Regions from separate parts of the Homo sapiens genome. Here region 1 is linked to region 2. Evidence: fine-mapped expression QTL. Tissue or cell type: whole blood. Region 2 holds a variant in brackets; the other region holds the start of a gene. All regions are shown on one strand. Distances are between the middles of the regions.

The links. PIP is the estimated chance that this variant, and not a neighbour inherited with it, causes the effect.
Region 1: AIG1 starts here. The variant in region 2 is fine-mapped to the expression of AIG1 in whole blood (TOPMed, PIP 0.96).

Annotation. Positions count from the first base shown.
Region 1 is chr6:143,059,201-143,063,366 of GRCh38, reverse strand. It overlaps AIG1 (androgen induced 1), which reads right to left and starts at 2,478. Exons shown (of 6, transcript NM_016108.4): 1 at 2,301-2,478. The coding sequence starts at 2,441. RefSeq lists enhancers at 1,939-1,988, 2,589-2,718, 2,544-3,482 and silencers at 2,179-2,248, 2,499-2,588.
Region 2 is chr6:143,016,725-143,020,890 of GRCh38, reverse strand. All of the region lies in intron 2 of LINC01277 (long intergenic non-protein coding RNA 1277), which reads left to right. Among named protein-coding and RNA genes, the nearest start is that of LINC01277, 19 kb to the left of the region's middle. The variant C/G (reference allele first, on the strand shown) is at 2,426.

The DNA.
Region 1 (4,166 bases), 42 kb before region 2:
ACAGAGTAAAAAATTACAACGCTGGCTAAAGGTCCTATACAATCTGAAGCTAAATATGAAGCAAAGTAAATGTTTCACATTTGAATCTACTGTCTGACTTCTGGGATAGAAAAAGTCCTGTATGGTGATTAGTATTTAAAACAGGCAAGTCCAATCATTGAATGCTAAAAGATAAATTATATGACAGCATATCAAGCTGACTCTACTATGGTTTCATGTCACACAAAGGTTATGAGAGGTATATCATTTCTTCTGAGCCTTGTTTTTCAATGCACAGTAAGCAATGCTAATTATGAAAAGCAGGCATCTCTTGGGTTAACCAACACCCTCAATTTCTACCTCTGTTCACCTGCTGACCCCTGCCTTGCTCCCACAACACAGCATCTACTGCAAGAGTGATGCTGAGGGCTGTTTCTAGAACCTATGGCTCCCACAGCATCTCTGTATTCTTGCCCAGCACTGCTCTTTAGCAACATTCAAATAGGCCAGCTCTAAGTAAGATCTGACTTAGGAATGGGATAAGGCAGTGTCCCAAAAGGAGTTTTGCTCACATAGCCCCTCAAAGAATTCTGAAAATCTATGCACATATTTTTAAATAACATCTCAACATCCTTAACATAGTTAAGTGTAAACACTTGAAAAAGGGACATCTTTCTGGCGCTCTATGGGTGGTATGCTTGCTTCATATACATATGCATCAGAACCTCAGGGTTGCAGATTTAGCTCATTCAGTATACAGAAAATGTCTGCTACACAACATAATTGGCAAAGCCAATCCTCATTGACAAGCCAATCAACCCAATAAGACTTTCTGTCAAGGCAACTCCGACATTGTTGTTCAATCAAATATAAAGATAGCCCTGGTGACAACCATCTATCTTCTGGAAGCTAAAAGGAACAGACAGAAAAGCACACCTCAGAGTCTTGTCACGGGCTCCTCACTTGGATGAATGGGGAGAATGAAAGGAGAACTGGCAGGCATCACGCATGTTCAGAGGGAAATTAGTTTCAAGCAGAGTTGGAAGATGAGGATCTGAAAATTAAAACCCTTGCAACATTCTATACCCTGTGAAGTCTTGTGGGCCTAAGGGTATGTGCACAGTTTGGAGACTGCTGGGCAACAGAATTGAAATTCCACTCTGAAAGTATCTAATATAATGCAAATATAAGGTGTTATTTTTAAACCAAAAGCCTCTCTGCATTTCTTTGAGGCATCCTAAGCCTTTGGAAATTTTTAAAACAGGTATCATGTTCTCTTCATCAGAATGGAGGGTCAACAAGAGATTATAATCTTGCTGGTGTAGCCAACCAACTGTATAGTCTTGGATAAACAGTTCAGGGAGTCCCAGGAATTGGTTCTACAATTTCTCTGAGTGCTTTAGAACTTCATTGCTTTTGTTTTAAGCCTCTTCCTAATAATCTTTTAGCGTGTGTCTTAGTCACCTTTACCCTGAAATTCCTAGGTCCATCCATGAGTTCATTATTGGGCCTTATGCCCATGTTCTGTTCTCCAGGGAGGTTGAAGAGGGCCTTTTAGTGCCAGAAATAGAAAAACTTTCAAAATGATATACTAATAATAACCTGCACCTGTCAAGATTATCATATTGTGCCAACAGAGGAGCTGCTTATGCAAACTACTGTAAATTTGTACATGGGAAGACAGAGAAGTGTGTACAGTCACCTTGGAAATGCACTTTGAACATCTCTGTCTCCTAATATGTACGGGGTAAAGGTTGAAAGTAAATTATTGACAATGGGGGAAAAAAACAGATGCAAAGAAGACAACTTTATTAGGTGCTTTCTCTCCCTTATGAGAAGGATTTGGTTCTTTCAGGTGAAGTTCCAAATCACTAGACAATACCCAGTTTCCTTCAGTTGCAACAAGTTCATCCCACGGTGGGTGCTCTGAAAAGCACCTTGAGGGCGAATGGGTCTCAGGCCATTCAGGATCAGGTCCGATGCTTTTGTTGAAGATTCTTCCCGTGTCACCTCTTAGAAGCAGTTCGGTGTCCCCCTCCAAAGAGCCCACCACCTGGCTGCGCCCCACCTCCATTTGTCCCCCAGTTGCCAGGTAAGGGTACCCAGCTACCAGGTAACGGTGAGTGGTTCAGAAGGTGCCGCTGCGGGGGCAGCCAGGCCTTCACACGCAATCACTGGGGAAGAGGCGAGGACACGGGTGGATGCTGGAGGCGCGCACGTGCGCAGGTGCTCGCGCATCCACACACACACACACACACACACACACACACGCACACACAGGCACGGGGTGCGGGGCGAGCAGGGGGAGGGGACGGCCTTACCAGATCAATGAACGTCAGGAATTTCCAGCTCCCTCCGTAGGTCTGGTGTGAGGGCATTTCGATGGCCTTGTAGTTACACAGGATAGAGCAGTAAGACAGCAGGATTGCCATCCGCAGCACCTGGCAGGGGACAAGCGCCATGTTCGCCAGAGGCCTGGACCGGCTGGGCGGCAAGGAGGGCGGGCGTGAGGGAGGCGCCGGGCGCGCGGGGGCGGGCGCCGTGGGAACCCGGGCGCGGGCGCGGGCGCGGGGCGGGGCGGGGCGGGGGCGGGGGCGGGGGCGGGGCGCGCGCCCCCGGGGACTGGCGCGGCCGCGAGCGCCCGGGTGACCTGTACTGGCCGGGCGCGGTTTGCGGACGCTCTCCACTGCCGGCCGCGGCCTGGCAGGCGGCGTGTCGTCATCTCTTTCGTCACCTTCGTCATTCTGCTCCTGCGTTCGCAGGGTCCCGGGACACCCGGCCAGGAGGCGCCCCCTAGGCATCCCAGGTGTGGATGCGACCTCTGAGTGCTACGAGGGCTCGGGAAGTGCGCGCTGATCTCCAGGGGGAAGCGGGCCCTGTGGCTAGTGGGCGCCGGGCCGGGCGAGGGGGCGGGGAACCTAGACTGAAGGAGTGGACCCCAGTGTCCACAAATGTTCCCGCCCCGGAATCGCGGTGACGCTTCCTGGGGTAGTTGCAGTTGGCCGAGAGCTGGTGCCCCGTGCGGAGGGATCCGGTGGGGGTGTGAACGTGGGGTGTAAACCCGAGCACAGGCAGCCGCGAGTGACTTTCAGTATTTTGGGGCAATAAGGTTTTCAGTGTTGACAAACGACTGTCAATCACTAGGAAACTCTCTCAATTCTGCTTTCAATGGGTAGGCTACGCAGCACTTTTCCATGACAGATTGAATAATGTCATATCAGTATATAACATCAGCTAGAATATGAACTTTGGACAAGAGGTTTATAGATAAAAAGCTATAAAGAAAGGATTTTCAAATAACTTTCTGCCACAAGATTGCATTCAGCTTTAAAAAATTCCAATTTTGGATGTAAAACCCCTGCGTGTAATTTAATACTAATCATCTGGTTGTTAAACTGGTTTTGCCCTTACTTTTTTCTTACACTACACTACCAGGGCTTAATGGAAGGAAAATAAATATAAACTGGAGTCCCTCCTGCCTTCCAGTAAATGTTGTCACACTGAAGTTGCATCAGTCTGTGGGCAACATTTTCATTTCAGCCAACCAGTTGCAGGTTCGGATTATGAAAAGGCAACATAGGTATTTCCTGTGGATCCATTTAAAACAGGTGTCCTCTTCAAATAGTCTCTGAGTCAGAGGATGTGGAGGGAGGGCTGGTGGGGAGAAGCATAGTGCTAGAGGTAAAGAGAAAGTAGCAAGCAAGCCATGGATGTTTTCCTGAATGTTTCCAATCAAGCTCTAAACTAAAATGAAGAGACCCACTAGATTTTTTTAATTGGCATTATAATTATGCTAATAGAACTGATGTCAGAAGAAGATTCTACTAGCATTAAAACGATGTATTATTGATGATTTTTGGTTAAATCTTAATGTAAAAGTTGGCTTTATTTTTTTAATTGTGCATCCTTGGTACATGGTTATAAACTGCCAAAAAAATAAAAATAAAAAAGAGTAGATCTATTGAAGATCTACCTACCTTAATAATGTGTCTGGAATTGGTTCCTGCCGGTAGATTAGTGGTCTCAGTGACTTCAAGAATGAAGCGGCAGACCTTGGTGGTAAGTGTTACAGCTCTTAAAGATGGCACAGACCCAGAGTGAGCGATAGCAAGGTTTATTGTGAAGAGTGAAAGGACAAAGCTTCCACAGCATGAAAGGGGACTGGAGCGGGTTGCTGCTGCTGGCTG
Region 2 (4,166 bases):
TCTTTATAGCAGTGTGAGAATGGGCTAATACAGGTGGTATATAGGCAAATGCATGTGAAGCACTACTGAATGAAAAATATGAAAAGATTGATAACCTCTGGCCTTCTTGTGGTCTGAGAAAAACAGACTTCTTACTTTTACTGCTGTGGTCAGGTTTTCTGTTGTCTGTGGCCAATGCACTCCTCATAGTCACAACAAAGAAGTAAACAGACAGTGCTTGAAGATTGTAAATTGGGGTAAATCTTTCTAGAGGAAATACAGAAATATGTAACAAAAATCTCCTGATTTTGGTAACTTATTAGTAAATAAGTTTAAACTTTAATTTGTACATATTTTACCTATTGTGAATGTACATAAAGATTCAAATATTTGAATATTAATTTAATCATTTTGGGTTTGGGGTTTTATTTGAGTCTCACTCTGTCATTCAGGCTGGAGTGCAGTGATATGATCACGGCTCACTGTAGCCTTCATCTCCCAGGCTCAACTGATCCTTCCACCTCAGCCTAGTGGGTAGCTGGGACTGTAGGTACATGCTACCATGCCTGGCTAATTTTTTAAAATGTTTTTGTGGAGATGGGGTTTTGCCATGTTGCCCAAGCTGGTCATGGTCATTGTTAGTAGCATTAAAAAAAACTACTTTATATCCCAACAATATATTATTTACATAAATATTATATAATATTTACATAAATTATGGTTCAACCATCCAATAGAATACTTTACACTCATTAAAACTCAGGTTGTATAACTTCACAGGAAAAGCTTCATAATAAGTGTAAAAAGGAGCTTTCTCAAAGAAGTAGGAATAATCTCATTTTAATATAATGATAATTACATATTTATAATGATTACTTACATATAATTATATAATATATGATTATAAATTATCAATATACTTATATAATTAAATATAGAAAATAATATAAAACATATAAATATTTTTATATTACATAGGCAGAAAAGTTGGAGGATTTTACTAACCAAAACTATAGTAGTGATTATCTTTAACAGTGCTTTTTATTTTTTTACATTACATCTTACATTTTGTATAATACATTTTTTCTACAATTTCAAATTTTACATTGTTCTTGTATTGCTTTTTCAACCAAAAAAGAATAAATATTATTTTTTTAATTAAAACCATGGTTAGAACTCAGCTGATATGAATGTAAAGTCAATGGCTATAAAATTATTTTTTAAATTGTTACACATGGACTTACTCCTAAGTAAATGCATTTCCCCATGAGAAGAATTATTTCTGTCTTTACTTTAGTGTCTAGAATACTGCAATTTTGTGTAAATATGAAATTGGGTCTTGCTCATCTTCATACAACTTTCTTAGGTGCTCATGGCATCAGAGAGCCAGTAGTGTTTTAAACAGAGTCCTTACAATCTGGAAATTTGAGTTCTAAGTTTGGATTATTTACATCTTCAATTGTGTTTTCACTAAGTCCCTTCACTCTTCGGGAATTATAGTTTCCTACATGTAAAAAGATATCTCTTATGATTAAATCATGAGGTATCCTGGGCAGATGATGACTTCAGTGATGTTGTGCCCCCGAAAAAGAGTGTGGCTCAGAGCGGGACATGTTTTCCTTTCCTTTGAATGCATATTACCTTGGTCATCTCCACTGCCTCCTACAAGGCAGATAAGCAACAGATGTGACCATTACAAACACTCGTCAGATGAAGCAGTGACATAAACAGGCAGAGTAGGATGAGGGTGTGTTGTTTTGCAGACCACGTGGGAGGACCAGCTTTCAGAGCCAAGAATGAATATTGGATGAAGTTATTAGGTAAAAATGGACTTGCTCAACATCCCAGAAAGGAAACTCCTCCTGTGCCCGAGTTCAAGAACAACTTCCTAGGGTGGAATGAGAGACTTCAGCTGATGGAGGGGAAAATGACATGCCACCTGGAGAAAAACCCAAGGAGAGACCAATATTCCTCTTGTTCCCCTTACAGGTCTTACACTTTCCCACTGAAACAGGAGTTAACATCAGCACAATTCAGGTGCCCGAGGAGTTCCTTTTTTTTCAGAGGCAGGGTCTCTCTCTCTCTCTCTGTCTGTTGCCCAGGGTGGAGTGCCATGGAGCAATCATAGCTCACAGGAGCCTCGAACTCCTGGTCTCAAGGGATTCTCTTGCCTTGGCTCCCCAAAACTCTGGAATTATAGGCATAACCCACCACACCCAGCTCCTGCGGGGTTCTTTATCTTTGGCAAGTCTTAAGTTAGCTCCAACTTGATTGGGATGAGGATAGAGTAGATTCCTTCTATCTCTTTTTTTAAATTAAAGTAGTTTAAGAAAAGATATGGAAATGCAGAAATGGATACAATGTACTCTAAAAAGATGTCAGGAATACACTCCCTCTCACGTTCTCTCTCTCCCCTCTCTTTCTCTCTCTCTCTCTCTCTCCACCC[C/G]CCTTCCTCCCTCCCTCTCTCTGTTTATGCCAAGCTGAATGGGAAAACGTGACAGGGTACACTTTCTGAGGGTTTCAAAAAGAAAAATAGTAACTTTAAGGTAAAGAAGCCTGGAAGACACCACCTTAACCTACTAATCAAAGTTAACATCATCAGTAAGAGACAAATCAACGGCCTATGTCTCCCGATATGCTGCACTCAAAAGGACATGGCATAATTCCTGTGATTTTTTTACTCAAAATAATTAATGTATATTTAATTGTGGAATCTATCAGATAGCCCTAAATTTGGCCAGGCACAATGGCTCACGCCTGTAATCCCAGCACTTTGGGAGGCCAAGGTGGGGGTATCACTTGAGGTCAGGAGTTCGAGACCAGCCTGGTCAACGTGGTGAAACACCCTCTCCACTAAAAATACAAAACTTAGTCTGACAAGGTGGCACAAGCCTCTAATCCCAGCTACTCAGGAGGCTGAGGCAGGGAAATCTTTTGAACCTGGGAGGAGGAGGTTTCAGTGAGTCGAGATTGTGCCACTGCACTCCAGCCTGGGTGACAGAGTGAGACTGTCTCAAATAAAAAAACATAATAACCCTAAATTTAGAAATATTTCTAAACATAACTGACCAGTGCCCTTCAAAAGTGACAAGAACATGAAAGACGAAGAAGCACTGAGAATCAGTTCTAGAATAAAGGAGAGTAGATATACATGGCAGCCAAAACCAGCATGTGATCATGGATTGGATCCTGGACAATAAAAATGACATTACAGAGACAATTGGTAAAACTTTAAAGAAGGTTTAATAATTGTACTGAATCAATGTTTAATCTCCTGATTTTGATAATTTAGTTACATAAGATGTTAACTTCTGGGAAATTTTGGTGAAAATGTACAAAGATTTTTTGTAGCTGCTTTATAAACCTGAAATGATTTAAAAATGAAGAGTTAAAAAATTAAAAATAAACATATGAAAATGGGCAGAGAAATAATTTCATATTTCACATAGAACTCAGAGTACTTTTAGTAGCAACGGTCCTGTCAAGCAGTAACCCCATTTTATAAAATTAAGGAACTTAGACTAAGAAAGCTGAAGTCACATGCTTTAAGATCACAGAATTAGTGAATGTTGACTTCAGGTCTGTTATGGCTGATAACAGATACGATATTTTGATAAATTGAACACTTTAGTCTCATGAAATGCCCTCTTTATCCCTGGTGATATTTCTTGTTTTGAATTCCCATGTAATCTTAAAAGACACAGTTCAGCTTTATTATGATCAGTGTTTGCATGTTACATCTTTTATCATCCTTTTACTTTTATCCTTTTTTGATATTTAAAGTGAATTTCTTGTAGACAGTATGTAAGTAGCAGGTCATATTTTTTTATTCGGTCTTACAATCTCTGCCTTTTAATTAGACTGTTTATACCGTTTGGGTTTAATGTAATTATCAATACAGTTATGTTGAAATTCATCGTCTTACTATTTGTGTTCTCTTTGACCCACTTGTTCTGAGTTCTTTTTTCTCTTTTCCTGCCTTCTATTATATAAATCAAGTATTTTATATTAGTCTGTTTCATTGGCACTATGACTTACTCTCTCCATTTTTAAAAATGTTTGCTTTAAGATTTACAATATGCATCATTAACTTTTCACAGTCTACCTTCAATTAATATTATGCCTCTTCCTATGAAAAGTAAGAACTGTACAACAGGATACATCTTTTTCATCTTTTCTGTCTGAAA